4 linked regions of the Homo sapiens genome follow. The protein of the gene in region 1 purifies or fractionates together with the protein of each later gene. This does not show direct contact. Each region holds a gene or a part of one and is shown on either strand. Other genes may lie near its edges.

Evidence for each region.
Region 2: the proteins of RAET1E (region 1) and ALG11 purify together in Homo sapiens (affinity purification with mass spectrometry; 2 studies listed by BioGRID and IntAct, with this or other methods). This does not show direct contact.
Region 3: the proteins of RAET1E (region 1) and NCR3LG1 purify together in Homo sapiens (affinity purification with mass spectrometry; 2 studies listed by BioGRID and IntAct, with this or other methods). This does not show direct contact.
Region 4: the proteins of RAET1E (region 1) and RYK purify together in Homo sapiens (affinity purification with mass spectrometry; 2 studies listed by BioGRID and IntAct, with this or other methods). This does not show direct contact.

The regions. Positions count from the first base shown.
Region 1 is NC_000006.12:149,895,105-149,902,067, reverse strand, and holds the start of RAET1E (retinoic acid early transcript 1E isoform 1 precursor), read left to right. Parts: upstream 1-3,954; 5' UTR 3,955-4,047; intron 4,048-5,828; exon of another isoform or gene 5,829-5,935; intron 5,936-5,937; exon of another isoform or gene 5,938-6,035; 5' UTR 6,036-6,222; intron 6,223-6,963. UniProt on the Homo sapiens protein: Binds and activates the KLRK1/NKG2D receptor, mediating natural killer cell cytotoxicity.
Region 2 is NC_000013.11:52,022,373-52,029,397, forward strand, and holds part of ALG11 (GDP-Man:Man(3)GlcNAc(2)-PP-Dol alpha-1,2-mannosyltransferase), read left to right. Parts: intron 1-1,633; coding exon 1,634-2,565; intron 2,566-5,946; coding exon 5,947-6,218; 3' UTR 6,219-6,432; coding exon of another isoform or gene 6,433-7,025. Other genes in the region: UTP14C (U3 small nucleolar RNA-associated protein 14 homolog C), read left to right, coding at 6,433-7,025. UniProt on the Homo sapiens protein: GDP-Man:Man(3)GlcNAc(2)-PP-Dol alpha-1,2-mannosyltransferase that operates in the biosynthetic pathway of dolichol-linked oligosaccharides, the glycan precursors employed in protein asparagine (N)-glycosylation.
Region 3 is NC_000011.10:17,361,775-17,368,799, forward strand, and holds part of NCR3LG1 (natural cytotoxicity triggering receptor 3 ligand 1 precursor), read left to right. Parts: intron 1-5,234; coding exon 5,235-5,573; intron 5,574-7,025. UniProt on the Homo sapiens protein: Triggers NCR3-dependent natural killer cell activation.
Region 4 is NC_000003.12:134,240,849-134,247,873, reverse strand, and holds part of RYK (tyrosine-protein kinase RYK isoform 2 precursor), read left to right. Parts: intron 1-7,025. UniProt on the Homo sapiens protein: May be a coreceptor along with FZD8 of Wnt proteins, such as WNT1, WNT3, WNT3A and WNT5A. Involved in neuron differentiation, axon guidance, corpus callosum establishment and neurite outgrowth.

The sequences.
Region 1 (6,963 bases):
TTTTCTGTTGAAGATGCTGGAGCTCTAAGCCAGCACTTTAAGGATTACTTGTTTTCTCCAGGTGTTTCCTGTGTATATACAAGAGACGATAGATAGATAGATAGATAGATAGATAGATAGATAGATAGATAGATAGATAGATAGATAGATAATAAACTCCTGTTTGTTTGTTTTTTTCATGAAAATCATTTTTCCTCCCCGCCGTACAAAGGCTTGTCAAAGGCACACTAATGAGCAGCTGATTGGGCTCCTCCAACCGATGAACTCTGTGTTTGGCTCTGTTTGGAAACACACTGAGGAGTCCAGCCTCTTTGGCTGCCACAGGATACATTTCCAGAAACACCTGTTAGGCGTCTGTGGATGAGGAAGGCATCAGGCCTTCCTACCTGAAGCCTTATTGACTCCTGCAAGTGCTAAAGAAACCCCTGGGGACAGGCTAGGCTGCCTGTTCCTACTGGATTTTAGGCCTGGAGACTTCTGGTGGGGGCAGCCCAGGCAGGGAAATCAGGAGCTGTGGACAGGGAGTGGAGGAGATCAGGAGGGGATGGCAAGACCCCCAGCCTGACCCCAGTCCCCAGTGCCCTCTAGCAGCAGAAATAGGAAAAGGAGGTTGAGGGCAGGCAATACTGCAACCTCCTGTGCTGAGCATACAGATAGGTCCAGCCTGGTGGCCCCGCACCTGCAGATTCAAGGCAGCCCTGCCCTGCACTAACCCTGCACCTCCCAGGCCCACTGCTCTCCCACTGTGACCCCATCCGGAGACTGGTCTATCTAAAGACCAGGACATTGACCAGCAGCCCAGTGCTCTGCTCCACGGCCTCTGTCAGGCAGGACGGAGCTGGAGCCCAGGCAGAGATAAGGACAGGGGAAGATGGCCCTTGTCAGCCAGGGATGTTCTGTCCTGCTGGGCATGCGGCCTCTCTCACAGAGAACCTACGTGATCTTGCTTCCCCCACTTTCTTATCTCATAGGCCCTACATATTTGCCAGAAACACCTGCATTCCTAACTCTTTGCCAGATGTCAGGGGCCAGCCGCCAGGGGAACTGCGTGGCAGAGCCCCTGTGCCAATGGCCAGAGAAATTCAGGAGTTCCCAGAAAACAGAGGGTGCTGGAAATCCAGGTGGGAGAGCTGCTCCTTGTGCCAAGATTTTCCTCAGAGGCTCCTTCTCCGGTGCCCTGAGCAGGGCCAAGCCTGGCGAATATTAGAATTTCTGCTGGGCTGAGAAAAAACAGCAAAAGGAGAAGCAGTCTGGGGGGTGACTTGGAGGTGGAAACTGGGTGCGGTCAGAAAAGTGAGTGGAGCCTGGAGGCCAATGAGCACCCCACCCTGGCAAGTCACAGCAGGACAGGGCAGGGGACCAGGCATAGAATTGGGCCAGTTGTAACCTGCACAACCTGGAAAAGGATTTGTATTTGTATTTCATGTACCCATTGGGTAAGGTGGCATTTATCTCCAGCTTCCTTGAGGTGAGCTCAGTTTAGGAAGTTTCTTTTCGACTGAACTGTGTCAGGAATCTCGCCAATGCCTGATGCTGCCCACCACATCTCTTTTGCTGCTGCTGTGGCTGGAACCTGCCTGGGAGGCACCGGCTGTGAAGGCTGGAGACCCAGGGAGGCTGCCCTGACACCTCTCCTTGTTCCCTGAGCCAGGGGGCCCATCTGAGCCCCTTCACCCCTGGGGAGCTGTTTTCTGTGCCTTGTATGAGGTTTTTGTCTTCACAGAAATGGCATTCTAGTAAGAGATAGAAATTTTAAATGGATAGATATGTAAATTATATGGTATGTGTGTTGGGCAGAAGAATTCCCTCTCCAATCCTCAGGATGGCAGATCCAGTCCCTGGAACCTCTGTGTTGGGGTACATGGAAAGGGCGGTGAAAGCTGTGGATGGAGCTGAGGTGGCTAATCAGCTGCCCTGGGAAAACCAGCCATGGAGGGGTAGTGTTCTCATGTAAACCAGGACTCAGCCTGGTGGAGCTGCCTTTGAAGATGAGGAAATGGGGTCCTGAGCCATGGACGTGGGCAGTTGAGCAGCTGGAAAAGGCAAGGAGGAGACAGGTTCTCCCCGAGAGCCTCCCAAAGGAACACAGCCCTGACAGCACAGTGATGATAGCTCCGTGAGACTATTCAGACTTCTGAGCTCCAGAATGGTAAAAGAATGAATGTATGTTGTTTTAAGGCACTAAATTTGCAGTAATTTGTTGCAACCACAATTAAAAGTTAATAAGGTTTGTTTGATTGTTTGTTTATAGGGATAGAGTCTCATTCTGTTGCCCAGGCTGCAAAGCAGTGGCGTGATCTCGGCTCACTGCAACCTCCGCCTCCTGGCTTCAAGTGATTCTCCTGACTCAATAAGCTGAGTAGATGGGATTACAGGCACTGGCCACCACACCCGGCTAATTCTCTTATTTTTAGTAGAGACAGGGTTTCAACATGTTGGCCAGGCTGGTCTCAAACTCAACCTCAGGTGATCCAGCCTCCCTGACCTCCCAAAATGCTGGGATTACAGGTGTAAGCCACTGTGCGCGGCTTACTAAGGTATGTTTTAAAGTGGTCATTGCTTTAGGGGAACAAGTTCAGGTGAAGAAGGTCCAGGATGGCCTGGGCAGGCAGAGGTCTCCCATTATGAAATAGAGGCCTTTACATTTAACAGTGGTTAAGATGAAAAATCACGTTACATGAATCATACCACAATTTTAAAAAAAGAAAGAAAGAAAGAAATACAAGGGTTCCAAATGCGAGGGGCAGGGAGAACCAGGCGTGGAAGGGTGTGCCACCTGGGAGCAGGAGTGGGAGTGAGCCGGGCAGATGCCTGAAGGGCAGTCCATGCTGAAGGGAGGGCAATGCAAAGTCCCAAGGCACGGGGACATCTGCAGGGCTCTGAAGACCAGCAAGGAGGCCGAGGGTGGAGGTCGGAACTGAGCGAGTGAGGGGGCATAATGGACAGCTGGCCAGACTGTGCAGGGCTCTCTAGGCATCTGTAGTGACTTTGGTTTTACTGAGAGAAAAAGGGCACTTTTGGAGAATTGGAGCAGAGGGGGGCGTGAGTGATGAGGTTCTGAAGATCACTCTGGCTGCGCTGTAGCCATTTGGGAGGTGGGGACAGGCACGGAGAACCAAGTAGGGCAGCACTGCAATCACCCTGGCCAGGAGGACGGTGGCCTAGAACCAGGGTCGAGTACTAGATGACAGTGTGGTCAAATCATAGATATTTTATTTCTAGTCCAAAGAAGAGATAAGAAAGAGGTCGAGCAAATAGGTGATTTTTTTTTTAAATTATTCACAGCCTTATAACATAACCTCTAAATCTTCAGTAAAGTTGGCTACATTCACAAGTAGCTGGTGTCACTTTGGTGGGGGCTTTGTAAGGAAGTGGGCAGGGTGTCTTTTAAGGAAGACTCAGGAGAAGTGCTGGTCTTCCAGTTGCAGAGGGGAATGGAGTTGCAAGAAGAAAACAGCGAGGTTCAGTGACACACAGTGCGAACACGAGCTCAGGGGGCAGGAGCTCCAGGTCTCAAGAGGGCAGGACGATAATGCAGTGTTTGCACAGAAACCAAGCAATAGAGGGAGCCAGCACCCACCAGAAATGAGGTAGGGCCGCTGTCACAGCTATGCCAGGACCTGCAGAAGCCTAAACCCTGAAAAAAGGTGGGGGCCCCCACCTACATATCAAGGAAAACATATGTATGCCATCACATGCTGGTCTCCAACAACTGCTAAAATTACATTAAATCCTTTCTAGAATTTCGTGGCTGGGACTTGAGTCTGGTCTTGGTCCTTCTACTGATGGTGAATCCAGTACTGAATTGGATCCAATTCTGGACGAGTTACCCTGTCCTAGAATCACTCACACGTGACAGTTGACAGGTGGCCCCACCCGGTTTGCATGGTGGACGGGTGTTCTGCTAGGCCGGCCTCTCCACACCCAGAGAGACTGAACTGGTTTCTGCTCCTCAGAGAGTTTGCACAGAGACTCTGAGGAAGCAGTCACCTCAGGCCTCTCCATCCTAGAGACGGCAGAAGGACAAACATCTCCTGCTGGCACAAGGTAGGGGGTGGGGGATGGCTGGTGTTCCAAACACCCGTGCAGAGGGAACGTGTGCATGTTTGGGAGTGAAGGAGGAAAGCAGGGGCTCGAGTGGTGAGAGAACCAGGGGCAGATAATGAAGTAAAAGTGGGGTTGGGGGAGATGCTGGGGGTGTGGCGGCGGGGACGCTGGATAAGGCAGGGAGGACGGGGTGGCTCTGCGGGTCCTCTGCCTCCACACCAAGCACTCAGGGATCCGTGCCTCCTTCCAGTCTGGAGTCCCAATCGCCCCTCTCTCCAATTTGGGGGACAGGGATTTCTCCTTGTTCTCCTGCCCTAACTCCTTCTTTCCGACTTCTCTTGTCCCATTCTCCCTCAGATCCTCCCTTCCGCTTATGCCAAGGCTTCCACAGCCTCGCTCTGCCGGGCCTTGGCATTCCTAGCCTGAGTGTTGAAACCATTGGCCGGGACCTCAAGGCAGCTGGGGCAGGGAGAGGACGGTTAGAAGCCCAGGGCACACTGCCACAAAAAGGCTGTGACTCATTTTCAGGGATTGAAAACTGCAGTCCAATTCATTTTAAAATTTTCGTCTCTCTTTGGACTTCAGGCTGAAAGTTCTTTATAGCAACGGGCTTCCAGGGACTATGTGAAATTATTGGTTTCACTTTCCTTATCACCCGCTTCTTACTTCAATTAAAATTCCATTTCAGCCGGGTGTGGTGGCTCACTCCTGTAATCCCAACACTTTGGGAGGCTGAGGGGGGAGGATTGTTTGAGCCCAGGAGTTCGAGATCAGCCTGGGCAACGTGATGAGACCCCATCTCCACACCAAAAATTTAAAAATTAGCTGGGTGTGGTGGCTCATGCCTGTAGTGCCAGCTATTCTGGAGGCTGAAGTGGAAGGACTGATTGAGCCTGGGAGTTCAAGGCTGCAGTGAGCCGTGCTCATGCCACTGCACTCCACCTGGATGACAGAGCAAGACCTGGTCTCAAAAAACAAAACAAACAAAAATCTACTTCATATGTAACCATTACTTCAGTTTTGAAACCATTGCCTGAAGCTGACATTTTGCAGTTGGAAAATGGCTATTCCTTCCCATCTTCAGGTTGGCTCAGGCCAAGCTGAGATTCAGGACCACAGAGGGCAACAAAGGTGGAAGGGCCCCTTTCCCCTTTCTGTATATTTTTCCCAGCCTGTCTGCAGCTCTTTCTTTTTCTTCAGTGTTAGGTTGGCATCCCAGATGTCAGGACCCAAGTATAGGCCTGGTGTGCTCCTTCCTGTGAGTCATCAGACTTGTAGAAAATATTGGCCCTGCTAAGGAGCTACTCAGTGGTCATATCACACATATGCACGCACACACACACAAGCACCCATGCACACACACACACACACACACAAACACACACATACACTCTGTTCTTGGCCCACCCCCGCTGGTGTCCCCACAGCAGCAGTATTGGCAGGGCGGTAGCAGTGAGTTCCTCTCTGTGTACTCTCAGGGCCTGGATGTGTACAGAACAGGCTCCACTCAGGACAGATTTGAGACCCCTTCTCCAGACCAAGAGGTGGAAGTGCACCCTCAAAATTGAGGTTCTTTAACCTTAGCAGACAGAGAACCACATAGGGGACATGTAAAAAATGTGCATTCCTCGGCTCCTTCAAACGCTTGACCCACTGTCCTCTGAGCAGACAACCCCTTATCCCCCAGCCCCAGAGATAGAGCCCTGCCGATAGTCCATGGTTACTTTCTTTGAAGTCTGTTCCATCTAGTTAAGAAAGGACAGTGGTAAAGACCCACTTACCTTACCAGGCATCATAAGGGCCCTAGCATCTGAGTCACAGGATGTCACCCTCTGGGTCTGACATGCACTTGAATTAACTGGCATACTGCCCGGCACACAGAGGGAACCTAGATGTGGAACGGATATGGGTGGTGTTACAGGCCGCATGTTTGCCTGCCTTCCAAATTCATATGCAGAAATCCTAATTCTCAAGGTGATGCTATTTAGGAAGTCATAACTCATGTGAGTGGAGCCATGTGGGATTAAGAAGTGATAGGAGAGCTTGCTGTCTGTCTCTGCTCTCCACTGTGTGAGGATACAACAGGAAGACAGCCATCTGGTGAGGAAGAGAGGGCCCTCGCCAGATACCGGACCTGCTGACACCTTGATCTTGGACTTCCCATCTTCCAGGAAGGTAAGAAATAAATGCTTGGTGTTTCAGCCACCTTGTCTATTCTGTTGTAGCAGCCTGAACTGGCTAAGGTAGCAGGGTCTGATGATCAAATGGGACAGCTGTAAAAGTGAGGTGGGAAGGGGGTCTACAGATACTAAGTTTTATGAGGAAAACTTGTGCTTTATTTGAAAATGACACAAAATTTTGTTCTAAGAAAAATTTTCAGAATTCAAAACTTAGAGCCCTAAGACTTTTCCCAATGATAGACTTGGCTTTCCTTGAGGTCTTGGCCCCAGTAGGACTGCTGGAGTCTATTACAAAACTCATCTGGAAGGACCTCTGCCGTTGCTGAGGCTTGAGGAAATGGTTTTAAGGTCACAGTGTAAACAAAACTGCTGGGAAGTTGGAACTGGGCGGAGCCCACTGCAGCTCAGCAAGGCTGCTATGGCCAGACTGCCAGATTTCTCCTCTCTGGTCAGGGCATGTTGGTAAACAAGGCAGCAGCCCCAATCAGGGGCTTATAGCAGACTTAAATGTCCCCGCCTGATGGCTCTGAAGAGGGCAGCAGACCTCCCAGCACAGCATTCGAGCTCTGCTAAGGGTCAGACTGCCTCCTCAAGTGGGTGCCTGACACCCACGTATACTGACTGGGAGACACCTCCCAGTAGGGGCCGACAGACACCTCATACAGGAGAGCTCTGGCTGGCATCTGGCAGGTGCCCCACTGGGTCAAAGCTTCCAGAGGAAGGAACAGGCAGCAAT
Region 2 (7,025 bases), on another chromosome or scaffold:
AAAAAAGAAAGAAAAAACAAATGGAATTTGTGGGCATTTTTAGGCTACCAGAGATCACAATCTTTTTTCACATTTTAAAAGGCTCATTCTTGCTGCTGGGTAAAGAGTGACTGGGAAGGGGCCAGAGAGGAGCAGTTAGATTGTCATCCTTTAGGCTTCCCCAGCATCCTGTGGGTGTCTTTATCAATGCGTAGCACACAGTTTTGCAGTTATTTGTTTTGCATGTCTGTTTTCTCCACTGGACTGAACTTCTGAAGATAAAGACTCTCTCTCATCTCCATACCCCCAAAACCTGGCATCTCATTACTAGATGCTTAATAAATTTGTTTTTTTTTTTTTTTTTCAGATGGAGTTTCATTGTTGTTGCCCAGGCTGGAGTGCAGTGGTGCGATCTTGGCTCACCACAACCTCCGCCTACTGGGTTCAAGCAATTCTCCTGCCTCAGCCTCCCAAGTAGCTGGGATTACAGGCATGTGCCACCACACCACACATATTGGTCAGGCTGGTCTTGAACTCCTGACCTCAGGTGATCCACCCGCCTCGGCCTCCCAAAGTGCTGGGATTACAGGCGTGAGCCACTGCACCCAGCCAATAAATGTTTTATGACTCAAAGAATAATTATAAACAGAGGGAGACCAAAGTATTACAAGTCATTAAAGAATATACTTTTAGATATTTTCATACTAATTATATCTAATTGTGATATAGGCACAAGATCTAGCTTTTAAAGACTTGCATTTTTCAGATAAAAACCCTGAGTATTGCTTTAGTATTGTGATCCTATCTGAAGACAGGTTTGTTGAATCTTAATTCTTGTTTATAGTATTTTATTACCATTTTTTTTACTAAGAACACTGTCAAAACTTTTTAGTATTTCTTTAGACCATCTCATTCATAAATCAACACTTACTGTTGATGCCTGTTCTGTGTGAAACCCTCAGTGGAGGAAATAGCAAAGAACTAGAAGTCATGGTCTCATTTGAAGGACTGTACTTCTAATTCAATAAAAAATGTAGAAAACATCATTTTTAGTATGACCAACATGGAGAAACCCTGACTCTACTAAAAATACAAAATTAGCCGGGCGTGGTGGTGCATGTCTGTAATTCCAGCTACTCGGGAGGCTGAGGCGGGAGAAGCACTTGAACCCGGGAGGCAGAGATTGTCAGCCAAGATGGCGCCATTGCACTCCAGCCTGGGCAACAAGAGTGAAACTGTCTCCAAAAAAAAAAAAAAAATCAAATCTTCTTTATAACTGTAAGAAAATAGTTATCTACAACTTTTTGCTTGATTTTAACCTAATATATTCTTTTTTTTGTTTTTGTTTTTGTTTTTTTGAGACGGAGTTTCACACTTGTTGCCCAGGCAGGAGTGCAGTGATGCAGTCTCGGCTCTCAGTCTCTCAGGGTAGGTAGCAGGCTTTTTTTTTTTTTTTTTTTTGAGATGGAGTCTCACTCTGTCACCCAGGCTGGAGTTCGGTGGCATGATCACGGCTCACTGCAACCTCCGCCTCCTGGGTTCAAGCGATTCTCCTGCCTCAGCCTCCTGAGTAGCTGGGATTACAGGTGCGTGCCACCGTGTCTGGCTAATTTTTGTAACTTAATATATTCTTAACCATTACATTCTATTTTAGGTATCCTGAAGCAGTTTATGTTGTTTATACCGGCGATGTTAATGTCAACGGTCAACAGATACTAGAAGGTGCTTTCAGAAGATTTAACATCAGATTAATTCACCCAGTGCAGTTTGTTTTTTTAAGGAAACGCTATCTTGTGGAAGATTCACTGTATCCTCACTTCACACTGCTGGGCCAAAGTCTAGGATCCATTTTTCTTGGCTGGGAAGCTCTAATGCAGTGTGTTCCTGATGTTTACATTGATTCAATGGGATACGCTTTTACGCTTCCTCTGTTTAAGTATATAGGGGGTTGCCAAGTTGGAAGCTATGTTCATTATCCTACTATCAGCACCGACATGCTCTCTGTAGTGAAGAATCAAAATATTGGATTTAATAATGCAGCCTTCATTACCAGGAATCCTTTTCTCAGCAAAGTAAAGCTCATCTACTACTATTTATTTGCTTTTATTTATGGACTTGTTGGTTCTTGCAGTGATGTAGTCATGGTCAATTCTTCTTGGACACTAAACCATATTCTCTCACTATGGAAAGTTGGGAATTGCACTAACATTGTTTATCCACCTTGTGATGTGCAGACATTTCTGGACATTCCCTTACATGAGAAAAAGATGACCCCAGGACATTTGCTGGTTTCTGTTGGCCAGTTTAGGCCGGAAAAGAATCATCCATTGCAGATCAGAGCCTTTGCTAAATTGCTGAATAAGAAGATGGTTGAGTCACCTCCTTCGCTTAAACTTGTCCTCATTGGAGGTTGTCGTAACAAAGATGATGAACTTAGGGTAAACCAACTGAGAAGGCTGTCTGAGGATTTAGGAGTTCAAGAATATGTGGAATTTAAAATAAACATTCCATTTGATGAATTAAAGAATTATTTGTCTGAAGCAACAATTGGTCTGCATACCATGTGGAACGAGCATTTTGGGATTGGTGAGTTTGGCCTTTAAACAACTTGTTTGGTGCCATGAGATACACATTTTAAGTTCTTTTGATAAAATGATAATACTCTGGAAATCTGCATCATGCCCTAATTCTCTTGCCCTCATCCACCAAATGTGCTTTCCTCACTTGAGACCTTGTAAGATAGTAGTTAATAATAGCAGCTAGTATTTATTGACCAATTCCTGTGTGTGGGCCACTGTGTTGAGATTTTTACATGTATTATCTAATTTAAGCCTTTCTAAACCCGTTTGATAGGTGTTATTGTTATTCCCATTTTATAAATAAAGAAACTCAGGCACAGGAAGGTTTAGAAATTGCTCGAGTTCAGTTACACAGTAAGTGGTAGAGCCCGGATTCTAACCCAGATAGCCCCTGCTCTTAACAGCAACATTTTCTCTCTCCATCTAACCCCACTACATACTTACTGGTACAGATTCCTGGGCCCTACCCTAATCCTACAGAATGGCCAAATGAGAATCTCTGGACAAGGCCCAGGTAGATGTATTTTGATAATGCTGCTTAAGTGATTCTGTTATGCATCAAAAGTTGAGAACCACTGTTTGCATAGGGGCTTCTCACAGTAACTCTTTTAGTCTTTTATTGATTCTACCCTCACCATTGGAATGGCTCTCCTCTTTGTGCCAGATTGCATCATAAGTCTTCAACTTAAATCTCCTTGCACTTTAGCCTTTCTTGTTTATTCTGGCACAAACTGCTATCTCTATTCTGACCTGTTAAGCACACATTTTGCTATAAAATCAAGTACTGCTTTGTGTTTAATTTGGGTCCACATATATTTCTCAAGCGCTTTGTGCCTCACACTGTTAGTTGTTAGGGGAAATGAGGATAACATAAAAGTGACATTTCCTAAACTAAGACTTCAATTTCTCTTATACTCTTTTTACTCCTAGTTAGTAGTGTAGTGCTAGGCCCAGACATTAAGCAAGAACTTGTTGACCCAACCTGTTGCATGGGATCTGACCTCCTGTGCTTCCTTCCATAGAAACTTACTAAGCATTCACTCTGCTGAGCGCTTGGGTGGATGCTAGGGATGTGGTGGAGACAGGAGCTGCTTGGCCTGTCAGAGGCTTCCCACCCTCTGGTGGTACCAACAGGCTACACAGGCAAGTGCCGTGCCGTGCTGTGCCGTGTGCCAGGTGCTATGCTAAGGAAGTGCAGGGTGATGTGAAAGCGCCAAAGAGAAACCTAACACAGACTTGTGCGGGCAGGGAACAGTTGCCCAAGGAAATGATGTGACACTTGAGCAGGACCCGAACAATAGAGGTTAGCCAGGAGAGAGGGGAGAGTCTCCAGCAGAGGGAACAGCACTGTGACAGGAGTGACAACAGATGCATCAATAGGAACATTCAGCAGGAAGACAACAGAGAGGTGATATAGGCCAGGTTAAGCCAGTGGAAAAAAATAGCAGGATTTTAAGTATTGCACGTAAAAGCTTTCTGATTTCTCCAGTCCATTCTGGCCACATGGGGAGTGGATCAGTGAAGAGCAGGGAGAGCAAGACTGGAAGGGCAGTAAGATGAGCCGGCCTACTGTAGCAGCCCAGATGGAGGTGCTCATGAGCTGAACTTCGTAGGTGAACATGCTTGAGAAACATTCTGCAGTAGTATTGACCAGGACTTGGTGATTAACTGGATGTGTTAAATGAGGGAGGAAGAGAAGACTACCTAGGGTTTTGGGAGCAGGGCAGCTGTGAGAATGGTGTTGGCTTTCTCCCAGAGGGGAAATCCAAGAGCAAATGCCATTAATGAGCCAAGTTTTGAACCTGCAGAATTTGAGTTCATCTGTGGGACATGTGAGGGCATGCGTCCAGGAGGTAGTTTTGTATATAGGAGTCTGAAGTTGAGAGGAGTCTGGTCTGGAAATAAAAAATGAGGATTGTCCTTGTGCAGGTAGTTATCAAAGCTCCCGTGGATGTGGTTAAGATCGCCTGGGGAATATGTACAGAGTGAAAAGAGGCTCTCAGTACAAAATGCAGAGAACAGGAACAGCTGAGAAATGGGGAGAAGAAATGGAGAGGCGGGGAAAGCCATCCAAGTGCAGTGTCTTAGAAACCAAGGAAGAGAGTGTTTGGAGAAGAATGGAGAGGGCACAGATTCCGATGCTGCCCAGATGCTGGGGAAGGTAAGGCAGTCACTGGTGACCTGGGCAAGAGCAGTCTTGAGGGAGAAGTAGAAGCAAAAGTCAGACTATGAGCAAAAATCAAAAGTCAAGCACTCAGAAGTGAACAAGTAGAGTTGGTAAGTGCAAACCACACTTTCAGTAAGTTTATCTGTGAAGTACGGGGAGGGGGAGAAGAGACAGTGGCTAGGGGTGGGTGTTGCAGGACCTGAGAAAGGGCATGTGGTGCCCTAGCTTCCTAGCTGATAGGAAGGAGCCAGTAGAGAGGGAAAGGGTAAAAGATGCAGGTCTCTGAGAAAGTACAGGATGCTCTCCAGCTTCAAGCAGAATATGATATGAGCTACTGAATTCTGTTCTGCAGGGATTTCACCAGTTCTAAAAACATTTGGAATGATTTAATTTCTCTCCTATACATCCAGGATGATATCAGCTCTGTACCATCCTTCAGATAATTGGGAAAGCAGTCACTTGAATCATTCCCTGAAGGGCTTAATTCTCCTAGGAATATGGCTAAGAAGGGCTGGCTAGAGTAATTTATATTTCATGTGTATCATTTGGCAGAAACTAACCACAACTTTCATTTAGTTCAGCACTGTTGTTGGGCATGCAGTAGTCTCAAATATGCCAGAAATCCAGGCAGTAACATAAGCACGGCGATAGTATGCTTCACTTAGGTGATTCACTTTTTTATTTTTTCTGCTAATGTAATTTGAACTATTAAAATTGTTTTTTATATGTTTTTACTCCTTTTGTTTTTCTAATACCTGTTAATATTCTACCATCTTGCTAACATTCTCTAGTCTTCTTTTTTAATTATCTGCAATATATCTTTTTTAATAGGCTAGTCTTCCATCTACTTGTCTATTTTAACTAAGAATAAAGCAGCAGGCTGGGTGTGGTAGCTCACGCTGGTAAATCCCAGCACTTTGGGAGGCCAAGATGGGAGGACCACTTGATGCTAGGAGTTAGAGGCCAGCCTGGGCAACATAGTGAGACCCTATCTCTTAAAAAAAAAAAAGTGAAGCAGTATTATTATGAAGCTTTGAAAACTAAAAAACTTAAAATTATTTTATCTTGTACTGTAGAAGTTGAATAAGCAAATGTCTAGACATACATTTAATTAAGTTTCTCATAAGTCCCTTAAATTTTTTGAAGATTTCTATTCATCCTCATTCTTATGAACACACTCAAAAACTTAAAAGATTACATGATTTGTGTTTTTTTTCTCAGGAGTTGTGGAGTGTATGGCAGCTGGCACAATTATCCTTGCACACAATTCGGGGGGCCCAAAGCTTGACATTGTGGTTCCTCACGAAGGAGATATAACTGGCTTTCTGGCTGAGAGTGAAGAAGACTATGCTGAAACTATCGCTCACATTCTTTCCATGTCTGCAGAAAAGAGACTCCAAATCAGAAAAAGTGCTCGTGCATCTGTAAGCAGATTCTCTGATCAGGAATTTGAAGTGACATTCCTATCATCTGTGGAAAAGTTATTTAAGTAATGCCATATCTGTAAAATTAAAGATATTTTATATAAACTGGTTAAACACCTTCATATGTAAATATTTTTCTAAATTCAATCTCATTTGTCAAATCATTTTACTTTAGAAAACAGACAAAATTTCCTTTTAGAATAAAAGGAAGTGTTGAAAAGAAAATGGATGACTAGCCTTCGGCTTCCATTCTTGGTATACATGAGAGAGGCTGGCTGCTGAGATGAATGTGAACCAGGTTGCAGAGAATCTGGCTTTGAGCCACCAGGAAGAACTAGTGGATTTGCCAAAAAACTACCCCTTGAGTGAAAATGAAGATGAGGGGGACAGTGATGGAGAGAGAAAGCATCAAAAGCTTCTGGAAGCAATCATTTCCCTTGATGGAAAGAATAGGCGGAAATTGGCTGAGAGGTCTGAGGCTAGTCTGAAAGTGTCAGAGTTCAGTGTCAGTTCTGAAGGATCAGGAGAAAAGCTGGGCCTTGCAGATCTGCTTGAGCCCGTTAAAACTTCATCTTCTTTGGCCACTGTAAAAAAGCAACTGAATAGAGTCAAATCAAAGAAGGTGGTGGAGTTACCTCTTAACAAAGAAAAAATTGAACAGATCCACAGAGAAGTAGCATTCAGTAAAACCTCACAGGTCCTCTCCAAATGGGACCCTATCATCCTGAAGAACCAGCAGGCAGAGCAGCTGGTTTTTCCCCTGGGGAAGGAGCAGCCAGCCATTGCTCCCATTGAACATGCGCTCAGTGGCTGGAAGGCAAGAACTCCCCTGGAGCAGGAAATTTTTAACCTCCTCCATAAGAACAAGCAGCCAGT
Region 3 (7,025 bases), on another chromosome or scaffold:
TGTCTGTTAAAAATACAGTTTTATTTCTTCCATTATTTTATTTTATTTTTTACAGAGGTGAGGTCTCACTATGTTGCCCAGGCTGGTTTTGAACTCCTGAGCTCAAGTGATCCCCCTGCCTTGGCCTCCCAAAGTGCTGGGATTACATTGTGTGAGCCACTGTACCAGGCCTCATATTTCTTCCATTCTAACTTTATACCTTTTATTTCCTTTTCTTGTCCTGTTATGCTAGCTTAGACTTCCATTACAATGTTGCACAGGAGTGGTTAGAAGGGACATCTTGTCCATTTCTGATTTTACTTTCTAACCATGAAATATGATATTAGCTATTTTTTGGTAGATATTCTTTAGCAAGTTGAGGAAGTTTCCCTTTTATTCCTAGTTTGCTAAGAGTTTTTCATATGAATCAGTCTTGGGTTTTGTCAAATACTTTTTCTGCATTATTGGTATGATCATATAATTTTTTCTTTAGCCTGTTGATATGATGACTTACATTAACCAATTTTTGAATGATAAGCCAGCCTTGCATATGTGTAATATGCCTCTCTTGGTTATGGTATGTAATTTTTTCTGTATTGTTGGATTATATTTGCTAATATTTTCTTGAGGATTTTGTATCTACTTTAATGAGTGATATTGATCTGTAGTTATCTTTTCTGGTAATGTCTTTATGCGGTTTTGGCAGTAGGATAATATTGGGCTTGTAGAATAAGTTAGAATGTGTTCCCTCTGTCTACTTCTACTTTCTGGAAGAAATTGTAAAAAACTGGCATTATTTATTCCTTAAATGTTTAGTAGGATTAACCAGTGAAACCATCCGAACCTGGTGCTTTCCTTTTTGGAAGGTGATTTTTTTCTTCTTCTTTTTTTTTTTTTTTACTAGTTATTGACTCAGTGTCTCCTTCCTTCCTTCCTTCCTTTCTTTCTTTCTTTCTTTCTTTCTTTCTTTCTTTCTTTCTTTCTTTCTTTCTTTCTTTCTTTCTTTCTTTCTTTCCTTCCTTCCTTCTTTCCTTCTTTCTCTCTCTTTCTTTCTTTCTTTCTTTCTTCCTTTCTTCCTTTCTTCATTTCTTCATTTCCTTCCTTTCTTTCTCCCCTCCCCTCCCCTCCGCTCCCCTCCCCTCCCCTCCCTTCCCTTCCCTTCCCTTCCCTTCTCTTCCCTTTCTTCCTGCAACGTCTTGCTTTGCTGTCCAGGCTGGAGTGCAGTGGTGCGATCATGGCTCCCTGCAGCCTTGACCTCCTGGGCACTAGCGATACTCCCACCTCGGCCTCTGGAATAGCTGGGACCACAGGCATGCACCACCATGCCCTGCTAATTTAATTTTTTTTTTTTTTTTAAGAGATGGAGTCTATGTTGCCCAGACTCGTCTTGAACTCCCTCGGCTCAAGTGATCCTCCCACCTTGGTCTCCCAAAGTGCTGGGATTACAGGCATGAGCCACCATGCCTGGCCCACTAAAGCACTTCTTTTTATGTTTCTCGCACAGCAGGTCTATTGGTGAAAGGTTTGTCTGAGAAAGTCTTTATTTATACTTCACCTTTGAAGGAAAATTTTTCTGGATATAAGATTCCATGTTGGTGTTTTTCTCTTTTTTAAGTTTCAATGCTTTAAATATTTCACTTCACTCTCTCCTTGCTTGCATTGTTTCTGACAAGAAGTCCAGTGTTGTTCTTGTTCTTCTATATGTAAGGTGTGTTTTTTTTCCTGTGACTTTTTTCTGTCTTTCTTTTCCCTCCCTCCCTCCCTCCCTCCCTCCCTCCCTCCCTCCCTCCCTTCCTTCCTTCCTTCCTTCCTTCCTCTTTCTCTCTTTTCTTTTCTTTTCTTTCTTTCTTCTTTTGAGATGGGGTCCCACTCTGTTTCCCAGGTTGGAGTGCAGTGGTATGATCACGGCTCATTGCAGCTTCACCCTAGTGGGCTCAAGCCCAAGTGATCCTCCCACCTCCGCCTTCCAAGTAGCTGGGGCCACACGCGGGTGCCACTAAGCATGGCTAATTTTTGTATTTTTTGTAGAGATGGTGTTTCATTATGTTGCCCAGGCTGGCCTCGAACTCCTGAGCTCAAGTGATCCACCTGCCTTGGTCTCTGAAAGTGCTGGGATTATAGGAGTGAGCTACCATGCTTGGCCATCTTTGTCTTTCTAAAGTTGAAATATGATATGGCTAGACGTGGATAGGCATATTTGGATATTTATCATGCCTGGTATTCTCTAAGCTTCCTGGGTCTTTAGTTTGGTGTCTATCATTAATTTTGGAAAATTCTCAGCCATTATTTATTCAAATTATTTCTTCTGCTCCTTTCTCTTTTCTTCTTCTTGTATTCCCATTATATATCTGTTACACCTTTTGCAGTATCCCACAGTTCTTGGCTATTCTGGGGTTTTTTTTAAATTCTTTTTTCTCCTTGTATTTCAGTTTGGGAAGTTTCTTTTTTAAAAATTGTTTGTGATAGGGTCTTGCTCTGTATCCCAGGCTGGAGTGCAATGGCGGGATCTTGGCTCAATGCAACCTCTGCTTCCCAGGTTCAAGCAATTCTTGTGCCTCAGTCTCCTGAGTAGCTGGGACTACAGGTGTGCACAACCATGCTGGCTAATTTTTGTTTTTTAAGTAGAGACGGGGTTTTGCCATGTTGGACAGGGTGGTCGCCAACTCCTGACCTCAAGCAATCTGCCCACCTTGGCCTCCCAAAGTGCTTGGATTATAGGTGTGAGCCACCACACCGTGCCCAGTTTGGGAAGTTTCTATTAACATCTTCAAGCTCACTGATTCTTTCCTTGTCAGTTTCTTTTTTTTTTTGAGACGGAGTTTTGCTCTTGTTGCCCAGTCTGGAGTGCAGTGGCGTGATCTCAGGTCACTGCAACCTCCGCCTCCTGGGTTCAAGTGATTATCCTGCCTCAGCCTCCCAAGTAGCTGGGATTACAGGCATGCGCCACCACCCCTGGCTAATTTTGTATTTTTAGTAGAAATGGGGTTTCTCCATATTGGTCAGGCTGGTCTCGAACTCCTGACCTCAGGTGATCCACCCACCTCGGCCTCCCAAAGTGCTGGGATTATAGGTATGAGCCATTGCGTTCAGCCTCCTTGTCAGTTTCAAGTCTACTGTTGAACCCACTGAAGGCATTCTTCATTTCTTTAATGGTGTTTTGAGCTCTAGCATTCACTTTTGGTTCGTTCTTAGCATTTCCATCACTCTGCTTATATTATCCATCTGTTTGTGCATGTTATCTGCTCTTTCTGTTAGTGCTCTTAACATTTTAATTATAGTTTTTTAAAATTCCCTATATGATAATTCTAAAATCTGTGTCATACCTGAGTCTGGGTCTGATGTTTGCTTTGTTTTTATGTATTTTTTAGCCTTGTAATTTTTTAGTTGAAAGAGAGATATTATGTATCAGGTAATAGGCTTTTATTATGCGGCCTTATGTTAATTTGGCTAGGAGCTGGGTTGTGTTTAATGCTTATTGTAGCTATAGGTGCCAGAGACTTCAGTTTCTCTAGTGTTTTTTTCTCTCCTTTCCTATTGTCTTTGGGTTTCCTTATGAACTCCTTAAATAGGTTCTGTGCCTTGTAGCTCTCTCACTTATAATCTTCTGTTATTATACTGGAGCCCTGTTGATGTGGTAGTAAAGTGTTGGAGGAGAATCTGTTTATACTTTTATGATTAAATCTTATTCTTTTAGTGGCCTGAGCCTCTGGACTGTGGCCTTCAGAAGTGTTTCTTAGCCTTTTCTCTTTCTCTCTTCTTAAGTAATACAGAAAGGCTATAGACAGCTGGAGTTGGCTAATTTTCTTCTCTCAGGTCAGATAAGGCTCTGACATCTTCCCTTGAGATGGAGGGAATAATCTAGGTATATTTTAAAATGATTACTTCTTTCCATCCCCCAGAAAGAGGAGGAGATTTTTCTTGGCTCTTTACTGTGAGAATCTGGTGGGGTTCCTGGAAGTAAAACTCATGACAGTGTGATAGCATCCCCAAGACTGGGTCCCGAGGATGAAAACCCATGAAAGTGTGGTAAGCATCCCTAAGACCAGGACCTGAGGAGGTTTTTATTCTCAAGCTAGTCCACACTCATCCTTTAGCAGTTTGTCGGAGTTACTGCTTAAGTACTTCTACTGGTTTATGACTCCAGCAGCTTCTGCATGAGGTGATTTGATCTTAGCTGTAATTTTCTTAATCTCCTTCTTTCTCCAGTTTTCTGAGTGGCAGTTTGCCCTGTCACTTCAATTCTCTGAGGAATCTAAGAAAAGCTGTTGATTTTCAATTTGTTCAGCTTTTGTTCTTATTATAGGGTGGGAGTGATGACCTCTCATGTGAGAGGGAAACCTGGAAGTCAATAGTGGCTTTGGAAATGGCAGTTTATTTTTCTTTCACACTAATGTAGCCAGCCCAGGGCAGATATGGCAGCTAGCTCTGTGATCATCTGGGACCCATGATCCTTTTATCTTGTCACTCTGCCATCTTCAGTATGTATCGTCCACCTTGTGTTTGGAAATGGCTTATCCATCTCCAGTCATCACATAGTATTCCAAACATTCTGCAGGAAATAAGGAGAGAGAGAGAAAGAGACAGTCTTTTAAGACATCCTTTTAGTTTAAGGATACTTCCTAGAAGTTGCTCTTGCCACTTTTGCATAAATCCAGGCCTACTAGACCCCTGAGTTTGCATGACCAAACATACCTGCAGTGGAGGTTGGGTGATACAGGTTTAATCTGGATATGTCATGGCCAGCTAAAAATGCACAGAATGGAAATTGAAGAGCAATTAGCAGTCTCTACCACAACAGTGTTCCAAGGCTTTCCTCAGATTATGAAAGGTGTCTGTTTCACAACACAGCTTAAGAAAACTCTGCTTTACAAAATTGCTGTGAGAGTTGTGGTCACAGCATGTCAGTACCCGGTTGGCACTGGCACCAACATACCCAGAATATTTAGCCCAAGCTGACTTGCATTCAGTCACTCACATGTCCTGAAGGCTTACCATGGCTCAGATGTCAGGCTGATAATAAGCTAATCCCTCCCTACCCTTAAGGAGTGCCCAGTCTGGTATTGTAAATCTCCAGCTCATTGCTGGACATGGTTGCAGCATTTTTAAAGAGTAGGCATCCTGTGTTTTTTGTCTTATCTGGCTACAGGAGCAGTGATGCATAGCTGTGAGGGTATGGTAGAAGCCAGTTAGCATAAGGTGTGGTGGGGATAAAAGGGTGCTGGGCCCAACTCTGTATGATTTTTTTTCCCTGACAGCTTCCCCAGCCAGCAGATTGTTGCTGGATCAAGTGGGCATGAAAGAGAATGAAGACAAATATATGTGTGAGTCAAGTGGGTTCTACCCAGAGGCTATTAATATAACATGGGAGAAGCAGACCCAGAAGTTTCCCCATCCCATAGAGATTTCTGAGGATGTCATCACTGGTCCCACCATCAAGAATATGGATGGCACATTTAATGTCACTAGCTGCTTGAAGCTGAACTCCTCTCAGGAAGACCCTGGGACTGTCTACCAGTGTGTGGTACGGCATGCGTCCTTGCATACCCCCTTGAGGAGCAACTTTACCCTGACTGCTGCTCGGCACAGTCTTTCTGGTAAGGGTCTTTCTGGACATTTCTTCTCTTCCTTGCCTTGAGGGACTATAACATAAGACTTATTCCCACACAGCCTGGGTCTTAGCTGGGGACTGAAGGGGAAACAGAGAAAGCTTGGACTGGAAGGACCAAGCTGGAGTCTGGCCTAGCTCAGCCCCAGAGTCAGCAGTCCAGCCTAGGTCCCTACACCTGGGCAGATGATGGTCTTAGTAGGTGGAGAGTGGTGACTGTAGTCATCAGGTGGAGCAGGGCTATTTGTCAGCTCATGGCAGCTTCAGGGTTTTGGATGGTCCATATGGCTTGAAATAGGAAACCTGCCAGTTGCTAGGGGAATGGGGACAGTATCCTACCCGTGTTCCCTGAGGATAAGGGGCTATCAGGGGCCAGGGACCAGTCCTGCTAGCAGCCCTTCTAATAAGGCTCTAGGTCCACTGTAAACTGTTGGCTGGTAGAGGCTGACTCAGTAGTCTTGTCTTTTTTTTTTTTTTGAGATGGAGTTTCGCTCTTGTTGCCCAGGCTGGAGTGTAATGGCGTGATCTCAGCTCACCACAACCTCTACCTCCCGTGTTCAAGCGATTCTCCTGCCTCAGCCTCCTGAGTAGCTGGGACTACAGGCATGCACCACCACGCACGGCTGATTTTGTATTTTTAGTAAAGATGGGGTTTCTCTATGTTGGTCAGACTGGTCTCGAACTCCTGACCTCAGGTGATCCGCCCGCCTCAGCCTCCCAAAGTGCTGGGATTACAGGTATGAGCCACAGCACCCGGCCAGTAGTCTTGTCTTATGGGCTGTGTCCCAAGATGGGGAGGGCTACAGTAGAGTGGTTCTGCAAATGCTCAATGCCTTCCCCAGGCACACTGGATCCTTAAAACACAGTTCACGGCAGACCCACTCCTGCTGGTGGGCTGGGGCTTTTTGAGCTCATATGCCTTGGTCATAGCTCTGGTCTTGGGTGTGGGTGGCTCTGCTGGTAAAATGCATCTCCCTGGGGCTGAGAAGAGTAAGGAAGGCAGGGAGTGACTGGGGCACTGAGGAATGTGGTCAGGCAATGCCATATGGGGCCCAGGATGATCCTGGGGAGAGAGGAATTATTCTTGGAAGTTAGGACTAGGTGTGTGTGTGGGTGGCATGTGCAGGGATGCAGGGAGGGTATGTGTGTCCATGGGGAGTATGAAATGGAAATATACCTTGCATGTATGGTACGAGGGGTTGTCTATGTGGTATGCACATAGGGATAGAAGATGGTGTCGTATTACACAAGGTTTGAAGATGAGGGTAGCACAATTATGTGGTACGTGGTGTTCATCTTCCATATTTTTGGCAAGTGCTACATACACTGTTTGATGTATGGAGGTGTATGTGATAGGAATGGAGATGCTGAGACATGTGGCAGAGGGCTGGTGGTTAAATCTCTGACAAGGAGGATGACACAACCACACAGTTCCCAGCAG
Region 4 (7,025 bases), on another chromosome or scaffold:
TATAATATTTTTAAGACAGTTTAGAGTTCCAAGTAAGAAACTTATAAATGAAGTTGATAGTGACAACTTTATAAATTGAACTAATTACCCTTGATATGAGAATAAATTGTTTTAATCCAGTTAATATATGCATATAGTTTTAAGAGAACCAAAAGGCTTTTTTTTTTTTTTGAGACGGAGTTTCGCTCTTGTTGCCCAGGCTGGAGTCCAATGGTATGATCTTAGCTCACCGCAACCTCTGCCTCCAAGGTTCAAGCGATTCTCCTGCCTCAGCCTCCCCAGTAGTTGGGATTACAGGCACGCATTACCATGCCCAGCTAATTTTGTATTTTTAGTAGAGACGAGGTTTCTCCATGTTGGTCAGGCTGTTCTCAAACCCCCAACCTCAGGTGATCACCCACCTCAGCCTCCCAAAGTGCTGGGATTACAGGTGTGAGCCACCGCATCCGGCTTAAAAGACTTTTGACAAACACAGCAGGCTCTTGCTTTTGTCTTTTTTATCCCTCAGGCTCTACTTTCCAGGGGTAGCTACTACCTCAGCTAGGTCTGTTTATTTTTTCTTCCTCTTTTTTTACTTTCGTCATTCTAAATCAATGTAGAATAAGTCTTTGACTTTCTAGTATCATAACTGAGCTCTTTCTCATTTCTCTCTTAAATCCTCCAATGTAGTTACGTAACTTTTTTGTAAAAATAGCAGTATTTACATTATTGTGTACACAGGTATTGCTAAATAGTGACTTATGATTTTTTTTATACATTTTTGTTTTTCCCACAGCAAATAATTGCATTTTATCAAAATTGCGTTTTGATTCGTTACCTATTTATCTTTGGCTGTGTTCCCTCAACTACTCCAAGAAGTATGTTAAATGCCTTTTGATTTTTTTTTTTTCCAGGTAGCACATTAAATCATCTATCAGTGCCACTTGGTTTCCTCTTAGAGACTTCTTGGTCTGGAGCATTCCATCCTCTTGCTCCAATCTAGATAGTACGATTATTTTTTCTGGGACTTCCTGTTACTTCTTTCCTGTCTTGGAACCTCTGTTTTTTAGATCTCCTGTCTTCCTTTTTCTTGGTTTGCTTCATTTTGCTACTATGTATGTATCCTCAGTAGCTTCTTAGGAAGGAATGATGGGAGATAAATTACTTGAGGCCTTGAATGTCTGAATGTATCTATCCTGTCCTCATACTTTATAGATGGTTTGGCTGAATTTAAAATATTAAGTAGAAATACATTTTTTCATAATTTTGATGGCATATTCACAGTTTTCTGTCTTAAGGGTTTTTGATGAAAAGTCCAAAGCCATTCTGATGCCTCTTTTTTTCTGTTTTTTTGAAGCTCAGGTTCTTTTTCTCTGGCATTCTGAAGTTTTATAAGTTTTTGTGTGGTTGGTTGGTTGGTTCTTTCCTTCCTTTCTTCCTTTTCTTTCTTGTATTACCTTAGTGGGTCCTTTCAATCTAGAGACTCTTTTTAGTTTTCAGAAATGCTTTTTTTTTTTTTAATAATTCCCACCCTTTATTTTCTCTCTCTCTGTGTGTGTGTGTGTGTGTGTGTGTGTGTGTGTGTGTGTGTATTTCTTTCTGAGATGTCTGTTGGTTTGGTTGTTGAACCCACTACAAATGATCTTTAAATTTTCTTAACTAATCTCATGTCTTACGTATTTCTTTGTACTGGAAGGAGTGGGAGGGGGGGAATGGTTCTCAATTTTAATGATCATGTTTTTAAATTTTAGAATCTTTTTCTGTTTCCATTTCATTGCATCTTATTTTATGGATGTATTATCTTTACTTATCTCTGATGTGTGTATTTTTATTTTTTCTTTGTGTTTAATATATTTTTAATATTTCTTCTGTTTCCTCCAGTGTGGTTATTCATTTCAGGGATCTTTTCTTTGTTTGTTTAAGTCATAAATATCTGGTGATCCTTGACTGTCTATAATGAAGAAAAAGATCCTGAGGAGCTGATTGCAGAGGAGAGAACATGTGTGTATTGGTGGTCTAGTGACTTGTGAGTTCAGGTGGACTTTTCATTGGGAGTCTGCCCCGAATATCAACACCTTTACATCTCGTTTGGGGCCAGTGTTCACAATGAAGAAATCATCATCTCCTGCCTCTGGTATGCTTGGTGATATGCCAGCTGCCAGGGTTTGGGTTACCTGGCTGAGGGAGGGATGGAGGCTGTAGCCTTCGACTTCTGGCTACAGTTCTCCTGTCACTGTGATTCAGTTTCTTCAGAAAAAACTTTGGGTTTCCTGCTGGAACTGGGGATCCAAAAGCTTTGAACACCTCTTTCGGTGGCTCCCCCCTTGTCTAGGCTAAGCCTCACATCAGCCTTTGGCATCTCCTTGGTGCCTCAAGACCTGAGCCTCTTGGAGGTCCTGAGGGGCAGTGACCATTCCTTCAAGTACTTTGCCATCTTGCAAAAGTTTGTTTAAAAAAGCATGTTGTCTTTCCTTTTCTGTTTGTCCTTATGGTTTGATGTCTTTGTGATTTTTTTTTTTTAAACTATCATTTTAGAGGAATTTTGGAAGGAAATGGAGGTAAGGGATTATGGTCATTCCACAATGTGTAAATGGCAGTTAGGGTTTGGGTTTAACTATTGAAGATGACGTGTGGCAGTCTTTTTATATGAACAATATTACGAGTAGTTAATGGTGGTTGTAGTAGTAGTTGACACTTTTAAAAGTGCTGTCTTTTGTCTGTGTGGGGCATAGAGGTCATCCCTGTGTTATGTACTGTCATTTCCATTTTATAGATGAGTGTTAGTCTGCTCAGGCTGCTGTAACAAAGTACCATAAATTGGGTGGATTGTAAACAACAGAGATTTATTTCTCACAGTTTTGGAGGCTGGGAAGTCCAGGATCAAGGCTTTGGTAGATTTGATATCTGCTGAGAGCCCTCTTCCTGGTTTATGGATACTGCTTTCTCCCTGTGTTCTCACATGGTGGAAGGGGCAAACGAGCTCCCCTGGGTCTTTTTATAAGGGCTCTAATCCCATTCATGAGGACTGCTCTTATGAGCTAATCACCTCCCAAAGGGCCCTACCTGCTAATACCATCCCTTAGTGGTTAGGATTTCAACATAGAAATTTTGGGGTGACACAGAGAAATGAGAAAACAATAATCTTAGAGTAGGTATGTATTAATGACTAGCCTGGTTTTTTGGTAGTAGTAGGGCACACGGTCCTGATGGAAGTGTATAAGTTCTGAAACACCGAAAGCTTCAGAAGCTTTTAAACTCTGGTTGGCCTTCCTGTGTTCCTGGGCCCTGGTTCATCGCTTGCATTTACAAGCCTGTTACTTGCATAACAGGCTGCAATGTAGGCATTCATTTCTGCATTTTACTGATGAGGACCCTGATTCAGGGCCTTTTGGACAGTGAGTAGAAGGCCAGGTCTTGACTCAGTCCTGCCTGAGACCTGAATTCATACTGTCTCTTTATCAGCTCTGGAGGAGTGCAATTAACCAAAAACTCAAAGAGTAGAACCGCAAGCCTCCTGCCACAGGTGCTTGTTTGTGGTCTTTATTATTATGCTAATTATTCTTGCATCCTCCCATGTTCTTTAATTGATAATTTTCATTGTACTGAGCTCTGTGGAATTCCGGAGCCTGTGAAGGTGGCATATGGCTGGGCAGTGCCAGAAGCTTGGGAAGAACATGCTGGTGGGTGGGTGGGGAATGGTATAAACTGGTTATGCCAACAGTGGTGGTGGTGATAGGGGTCAGGGGGACTTTTGGGAAGAGGCCCCATCTCCCACCAGTTAGAAATTAACTTTGGATAACTTGCTTCTCCTCTTAAAATAAATATCTTCTGGAAAAGTCAAGAATGTTCACATTTTATTTAAAATCAAGTCAATACTAGTTGAAATCACTGTGTCCCAAATCAGTCCAGAAAATTTTTTTGAAGCTAAACCAAGTACCATATATTGTGGTAGAAAATGACAATTCAAAATTATTACACTCCTTTCCCTGAAGATCTCAGAATTTTGTAGGGGAGACTTGCATTTATGACTGTAACAGAGATAAGAGTTATATTGCTGGTTGACATAAGTTATTGTAGGAGCACTTACTTTTGACTGTGGAAAGGGCGGAGGGGAGACAGGCTTAGAGAGTTTAGGAAACTTGTCCCAGGGAAAAAAAAGACATTTGAGCCTCATCTTGAAGGATGAATTTGATAGGCAGAAAAGAGCAGTTCATACCAGGCTGAGAAAGTAGTGTGAACAAAGACATAGAGGGTGGAAGCAGCTGTGTGAAATTGTGGGGTAGGAAAAATCTAATGTGGCTGAGGTGAAAAATTAGCAAAGCCATGGAGCGCCACAGGATAAAGCTGGAAGGTAGGCTGAGGTTAGAGTAGGAATTTGAACTCTTACAGGTGAATTCTTCAGTGAGCTGCTAAAGAATGCAGACTAGGAGAGTGCGCAGTCAGGTCTGGGTTATAGGGAAGATAACTTTGGCCCCAGTGAAAAGGATGGCTTTGGAGAATGAAATGCTGGATCTGGGAAATGAGATAGAGCCAACCTTGTGATGATAAGAGGGATCAACTAAGGCAGTTGAAGGGGTGGGATGGATTTGTGAGGAATTTGGTGAGTTTGGAGAAGACTTAGTAGAAGAGACTTTAGGGCTAAAGAAAGGGGAGGAGTCACAGAGGAATCTAGGGTTTCAGATTTGGGCAACTGAACCAAAGGACCCTTTCCTTTTGGGAGAAGTGGTTGGTCAAGGGAAAGAAAAAGGAGATGAACCATGTATTCCTCTCCTCCCAGCACCCCTCTCTCCTAAATCTCAGAGCCCATGCTTGGTGGGGAGGAGGGGTGGAGGGTTGAAGGTGTCCTCTGCCCATGAGTCTGGCATAACCTGCCAGAGGGCCCAGATCCTGGGTGGGTTTTTGGGAGGTTAGCACTCTGCAGCAAATCCTTAACCCTAGGCGTTTTGGTGGAGTTGGTATTTATTTGAATCCATGTGTTCTTCATTGGGAGACAGGCAGAGACATTGTGCAATTGTGGGTTTGAGGGTTGTTTTTTTTCCTCATGCTACACATGTGAGAGAACTCTATCCAATTATGGCTAAACCTGTCCCCTGTGAGTCACATCCTGAGTTGACTGGTCAATTCCAAAGGTGCTGCCTAAAATGCTGTTTGGATTTTAAGAATCACTTTTGGGACAAATCAAACATGTGAGTATTTATTCAGGCACCTGAGTTGAGAAGTTCCATAGCATTACTTTTGGTGTTTTGATGCAGTTACGCCAATGTTCTGAAAAATCTTGCCAGCTACACATCCTAAAGCAAAACAAAAACTTGTACATGAAACAGAACCATTAGCTACTCTAAAATTATGTCACACTTAAAGGTATACATTTTTGTGCGTTGTTGATGTAAATCAAGTGCAATATTTTCTAATAAAAATTTTATTAAACAGCATTCATTTGTGAAGGTCCTCTTAAAATGTGCCAAAATAAACGTGTGTGTATTGCTCAGTTACATAATAAACAGTTGTTGAATGATTCTTTTTGTGTGTTCAGCAGTGATAATGCTGAGTGGATTTCATAGGTCTCATTCTTATCTTTTTTTTTTTTTTGAGACGGAGTTTTGCTCTTGTCACCCAGGCTGGAGTGTAATGGCATGATCTCGGCTCACTGCAACCTCTGCCTCCTGGGTTCAAGCAATTCTCCTGCCTCAGCCTCCTGAGTAGCTGGGATCACAGGCGTCCACCACCATTCCCAGCTAATTTTTGTATTTTTGGTAGAGATGGGATTTCAGCATGTTGGCCAGTCCAATCTTGAACTCCTGACCTCAGGTGATCCACCCACCTTGGCCTCCTTTCAAAGTGCTGGGATTACAGGCGTGAGCCACCTTGCCCGGCCTCATTCTCATTCTTATATAAATTTTAAGCTGGAATAGACAGCACACAAGTCTCTAGTTAGGGATCACCTGTAATTTAGGGAGGAGGAGGAAGAGCGTATCTTGCTGTATGCCAGGTACTTTACATATGTTCTCTTTTATCAACCATAGGAAGTCGGTGGCATTGACTGTTTTTTGTTTGTTTGTTTTTAAACAGATAAAGCTGAGATGCTGAGGTTGTGGGCAATTAACAGAATTTGCTGTAGGTCACAGAGATGTGTGGGGCTATGTGACTCCAAAGTGCGTGCTTTCTCTACTGTGCTGCCTTTGAAGGTTGACAGTTGACTTAGTCTTTAACCAAAATCATCTGAGAAGCTTTAACAAACTACAGATTCCTTGACCTACCCTGAGCAATTTGTTGAATTGATCTGAGATGGGGCTCAGGTAAATTAACGTTTTGAATGCCATGTTTAATTAATTACAGGAGGTACAGGTTTTCCACATTTGAACGTCTCTGAAATCAGAACCATGTTATAATCAGTGGGGAGAGTCATCAGTTAATAGCTTTTTTCTTTCTTAGTGGCACAAAAAATAAGGATGTACTTTAGATTAAATGAAATATGATATTATAAAAAGGTGATACTGTAAAGGGAACTTAAATACATAGTTTGTCACCTTTCTTTTTTTTTTTTTGAGATAGAGTCTTGCTCTTTCTCTCAGGCTGGAGTACAGTGGTGCAATCTCAGCTCACTGCAGTCTCTGTCTCCCAGCTTCAAGCGATTGTCGTGCCTAAGGCTCCTGAGTAGCTTGGGACTACAGGCGTGCACCACCACGCGTGGCTAATTTTTGTATCTTTTTTTTTTTTTTTTTGGTAGAGATGGCGTTTCACCATGTTGGCCAGACTGGTCTCGAACTCCTGACTTCAAGTGATTTCCCTCCCCCACCAACCCTGTCTGGGCTTCCCAAAGTGCTGGGATTACAGGTGTGAGCCACCATACCAGGCCTCCACCTTTTTTATGTGCATATGCATGTGTTTGTCACAACTTTCAGAATTGTAAAATTCACTGGTGGTATTTATTATTTGCTTACAGCAATAGCTGTGTAGTAATGCCCTTGCAGGGAAATCATAAAATGAATGAGATATTGTCATTAGATTAAGAGCAATAGCAAGGTTACTTTTCAGCCAAGAAGCTG